2 separate regions of the Homo sapiens genome follow, and region 1 is linked to region 2. The links come from fine-mapping of genetic effects on gene expression. Tissue or cell type: whole blood. Region 2 holds a variant in brackets; the other region holds the start of a gene. All regions are shown on one strand. Distances are between the middles of the regions.

Evidence for each region. PIP is the estimated chance that this variant, and not a neighbour inherited with it, causes the effect.
Region 1: it holds the start of RECK, and the variant in region 2 is fine-mapped to the expression of RECK in whole blood (INTERVAL, PIP above 0.99).

The regions. Positions count from the first base shown.
Region 1 is chr9:36,035,722-36,038,345 of GRCh38, forward strand. It overlaps RECK (reversion inducing cysteine rich protein with kazal motifs), which reads left to right and starts at 1,192. Exons shown (of 21, transcript NM_021111.3): 1 at 1,192-1,377. The coding sequence starts at 1,278. RefSeq lists silencers at 1,112-1,311, 1,322-1,471.
Region 2 is chr9:35,960,622-35,963,377 of GRCh38, forward strand. No RefSeq gene overlaps it. Among named protein-coding and RNA genes, the nearest start is that of OR2S2, 3.8 kb to the left of the region's middle. The variant G/A (reference allele first, on the strand shown) is at 1,100.

The DNA of each region.
Region 1 (2,624 bases), 75 kb after region 2:
TGACTGGATATTTAATAATATTAAGGAATTTTAAAAATGTTTTAAGTAATTTAGCCCCAGGTGTCTTCATGAGAATTTAAAACGGTGGTCATGCTTTTTCAAAAAAGGAGGAAAAAGGGTTTAATTCAGGAACACACAGAGAAAAAAAGAGACAATGAATTAGCTTTGCTAGCCAGTGGCTTAAACATTCTCCACGTAGCTGCTGGGCTGATGGGTGGGGTGGGACCCACTTCCAACTTGTCTCTTGGACAAAGTCTATACTTCTCAGCCGGATATTCAAGGCTTTCCACATCTAGGTATACAAGCGTTCTCCTATCCTCTTTTCCTATCAGGAATAGGTGCTTAATAGTAACATCAAGGCCAGGCACAGTGGCTCACGCCTGCAATCCCCGTACTTTGGGAGGAGGAGGCTGGGGGATTGCTTGAGGCGAGGAGTTCGAGACCAGCTTGAGAAATATGGTGAAACCCCTTCTCTGCAAAAAAAATATAAAAATTAGCCAGGCGTGGTCACCTGCGCCCGTGGTCCCAGCTATTCAGGAGGCTGAGGTGGGAGGATCGCTTGAGCCCGGGAGGCGGAGGTTGCAGTGAGCCGAGATCGCGCCACTGCACCCCAGCTTGGGCGACAGAGCGACTCTTGCCTAAATAAATAAATAAATAATTTTTAAAGTACAACAAAGACACATTGAGGCTATAGTGCCAAAGAGCTCTAGTGATGAACCCTTGTCAGGGGGCCGTGTCTGCGGGAGGCCGAAGGATCCCGGGTGACATGCTTTCTTTGGGTGCGAGGCAGCGTCTCGGCAGAAAGAATATTGCGAGTATTACTGAGGGTACATGAAGGAGAGAAGCCCCTTTGGTTCGGCCTTGGACTAAGCCCTTGTTCTCAGGTGAACTTGCAGTGTGATCTTGAGTAAGGTCAGTCTCCTCTCTCACCTCAGTGGCCCGAAACCTCAGGAGGTGGCAGAGGTTTTCTAATGACTCTCCCAGCTCTGACATCCTCTGACTTCACTCTGGGAGAACGTGGGCTGGTGGACTCCTGGCAGAAGCCGACACACAGTTGGGCCATAACAAAGAGCCCTGGTACGGGGCACGTTCCCGCCCCCGGGAGGTTTTGGAAACACTGTGAGGCAGGGGGCGGGGCTTGAGCGGGCCGCAGCCAGTCACCAAAGGGCCGGGCGCTGGGGGCGGGGCCTCGCGCGAGCGGCGGCGGTAGCGGCGGCAGCGGCTGCGGCCAAGCTGGGTCCGAGCATCCCGCGGCTCTGGAGCCGCCCGGCCCGGACATGGCGACCGTCCGGGCCTCTCTGCGAGGTGCGCTGCTCCTTCTGCTGGCCGTGGCGGGGGTCGCGGAGGTGGCAGGGGGCCTGGCTCCGGGCAGTGCGGGTGAGTAACCTCCAGAGCAACGGTTCGAAGCTGTCGGGAGCGGCCGCCACAGCGCTCCAAGATGGCGCGGGGCAGGGGGCGGGGGTGCGCGCGACCCCCAGACCCTGCCCACGTCCGGCGACCCCGGGACCCCAGGTCTCAGCGCTCCAGAGGCTGGTGCCGAGGCGGGGCGAGTGAGGAACTCTCTCCGCCCCAAGATCTTCTGGGCGGTGACTCGGGTTTGAGGCCTTGGTCTGTCACCCACCGACACGGGCCCCCTCTTCGGCACTGACCCCTTCGCTTGCCTCTGCTGCTTGTCAGAAAAGGGTGCGATGCCCCCGCCCAGGATCGTCGCGAGGTTTAGATGGGATTTCGGATACGCAGCCGCCCTACCGCGGCCCTAGTTAGTTATTGTTACTTGTTACTTGACCCGCACTTGGTTCATAACGACCTTGGTGGCGGTGAGCACTGACGGTCCCCACAGCCCGCGTGGTGGGTCCTGGACTCGGGCAGGAGACATTAAAAATCAGTAAACCCTGTCCCCCGGGGGCTGGCAGGCTTGAGGAGAGAAATTCTTGCTCTACAAGAACTAAACCAAGGATGGATAGGAAACTGTTAAGTGCTTATTGATTGCTTCCCGCTTGCTGGCCTTTTGAGTGCACGCCGACTCCTTCCGTCCAAAAGCTCTCTCGGTAGGAGATGGGGTACAGCAGGAGATTGAAGTAACTCGAATTCAAGGCAGAAATGTCCAGAGGAAATGAAGGGCCATGTATGAGTGCACAGAGGGAGAGAGGACATCGACCTAGGATGAGTGGAAAGTGGAGTGATTCCCCCTAGCTGTACTAGACATTGAAAGATGGCTAGGACGTGTGCATGCAAAAGTGGTGAAGTGCATTGCTTACAGGGAGACAGGCAGAGACACCTTAAAAAAAAAAAAAAAAAAAGCAAAGTCAGCCGGGTGCGGTAGGCTCTCCCCTGTAATCCCAGCACTTTGGGAGGTGGAGGCGGGCGGATCCCTTGAGCCCAGGAGTTCGAGGCCATCCTGCTTAACATAGTGAAACCCCGTTTCTACTAAAAATACAAAAATTAGCCGGGCATGGTGGTGTATGCCTGTTGTTCCAGCTACCCGCGAGGCTGAGATACGAGGATTGCTCGAGCCCCGGGAAGTTGAGGCTGCAGTGATATGCCACTGCCCTCGGAAGTGAGACCCTGTCTCAAAAAAAAATCAAAGTCAGTTCCAACAGGGGTATTAACTATAGCTAGGTTTC
Region 2 (2,756 bases):
CAAGCTGGAGTAAGTCTCTTCTCCCCCCTAGGCCTCAGTTTCCCCATGTGCTCCATGAGAAGGCTGAATAATTGCTTCCCAGGGCATCCCAGCTCTGAGGGTTGTCGTGGACCCTCCAGTGCTGACCTCTGCAAGCAGGGAGCGGTCCTTGATGAAGGTGGCTGCCCACACTGATGAATGTGAGGGGTGTGTGTGTGTGTGTGTGTGTGTGTGTGTCTGTGTGAAGGGGAGATCTGAATTCCTGGTTGTCCATCAAGAAACATTCAACAGTTAGTAGAGCTATGTCAGGTTTTGGAAGGGATTCAGAATGAAAGCAAACAAAGAGGTCTGGCACCTGCAGCCCCATAAGAGGAGGGAGAGAAGCGGGGAGGTGGGAGGCAGCTAGGGAGAGCAAGGGGAAGAGGGGAAGCTTTGGGCTCAGTGGCCGCTTCCTGCAGGCATGGAGCCTTGGTTTGTCCCAGGGACCTGGCTTGGCTCATGGTCTTGTCTCTACCTGTTCTGGAGCCAGCAGGCAGATGAGAAGTAGGAGGCAACGTGGTGCTGTAAAAAGAGCGCCATACACTCTCATGCAGCCTTTCTGGAGGGAAATTTGCCTAGGAAAAGGAAAAATTCAAAAAACCTGCCTGCCCCTCACCTCAGCTGTTCTCCCTTCAGGAAATGTGTTAAAGAATCAGTGAGCATGGAGGCCAAGATCTCTCAATAAAGGTATTTATCACAGCAGTATTTGTGAATGAAAATAGAAAACAATACAGCTCTCCACCAATAAGTGCCTAAGTAAATCATGCTTTTCACATAATGGAATATTAGACAGACCTCATAGTCCTATTGGTAATTTTCTCCATGCTAATATTACTATAGCATAATGATAAATTAAAAGGGCAAGGTCAAACTTGCACACACTATTATGATCTCAATTAGGTAAGCAATCATGTGGATAGAAAGTGACTGGAGGCCGGGCGCAGTGGCTCACGCCTATAATCCCAGCACTTTGGGAGGCCGAGACAGGCAGATCGCTTGATGTCTGGATTTCAAGACCAGCCTGGTTAACATGGTGAAACCCCGACTCTACTAAAAATACAAAAAACGTTAGCAGGGCATA[G/A]TGGCATGTGCCTGTAATCCCAGCTACTTCGGGGGCTGAGGTGGGAGAATCATTTGAACCCGGGAGGCGGAGGTTGCAGTGAGCCGAGATCACGCCATCGCACTCCAGCTTGGATGACAGAGACTCCATCTCAAAAAAAAAAAAAAAAAAAAAAAAAAGCGACTGGAAAGAAAAGATAGCAAAATCCATAGGGGCAGAGCATTCCTCTCGGTACCTCTTCAGTGTTTCCCAAATTTTCTCTGAATACCATGGATACGAGTTATTTTGTATTCAGAAAAAATCTCAGCATTTCTCAGAGGCGGGTGAGAGAAACGGAAAGCGCTAGCCGCAGAGTGGGCTTAGAGACAGGGCTGGGTACAGGCCCACCTGCCTCTCGCCCCCTGACCCTGAGGGAGTCCGCTTTTCCTCTGAGCCTCCCTTCCTCGCCTGTGGAGTGGGATGGAAGCCCTGCCAGGCCCCCTCGGGGCTTGCGTAGGGACAGAGCAGCAAGGACAGGGAGGGGACTTGGTTCATGGGGTCCCCGGCGGGCACTGGGAGCCCAGCAGCTCCTCTCTGCCCCAGCAGCAGCTGCTGCTTAGGACCAGTGGCAGCTGGGAGGTTTCTGGAAGCAGAGGCGGGGCGAGGAGGAAAGCGCATCTGAGGCAAACGTCCTGCAAGAGGCATGTCCCCATCCCTGCCCCGCCCCATCCCTGCCCCCGCCCCAGCCCAGCTCTCCCCATCTGCTTCTTGCGCGATGGCCGCTTCTGAGTCTCCTGATTCCACACGCAATTCTCAGTTCCTCCCTGGATCCCTGGCTAGACACTGTGCCAGAGAAAGACCCCCGACATGCCCCTGCCTTACCTGGGAGACCCTCTTTCTTCTTTTTCCTCTTAAATCGTGTGGGCACTTTAGCCTTTGGTGGTGTTTCTCTCACTTCATTCCTTTCAGCTGTGCTGGCTAAATGCTGCTGTCCCAGCTCCAGACTCTTCATGAAGAGGATCTGGCTTCCTGGCCTGAGGCCCAGAAATCCCGAAGGTAGGTTTTCCCCAGCAGCCGAAGGAATCCTCGAGCCGCACCGTGTACTCTATGGGGCCCCTGACACATTAGTTACTCCAGGGCCCTGCTAATCCCACAAGTAATTTAAAGTTTGGAGTGCCACATGTGCACAGGGCACAGGTCGATGCATACCTGGGAGCTCCAGGGACCACACCCCATCCCAATTAGAGGTGGTGACAGGGGCCCAGCCACTGGACATGGAGAGGAGACCTCAAAAATGCTGGCTCCCCCCTGAGCTTTCCCTCAGGTGTCAGAGAAACAAAGATGGTGCTCGCTTCAGGGAAGAGCACCTTGTCCCCAGGTTGAAGTCCTAGAGATCCAGAATGGTTGACAAGACAGATGTCTTCCAACAGCAGCAGCAGCAGCAGCACAAGCTCCATCTATGGAGCGCTACCATGTGCCGGGCACACTGACAAACACCGTACATATACGGTATGCATGTGACGCATGTGTGTTGAGCACCTACTTTCAGTCGGCCCAGGAGATTCGTATGATCCCCCGATGTTTTCATTTGAGGGACAGCCTTCAAAAAGTTAAGCAATTTACCAATGATCACTAGTGAGTGGCAGAGCTGGGATTTCAGTCTCAATACACCTGATTCTCTTTTTCATCACTTGTAGTC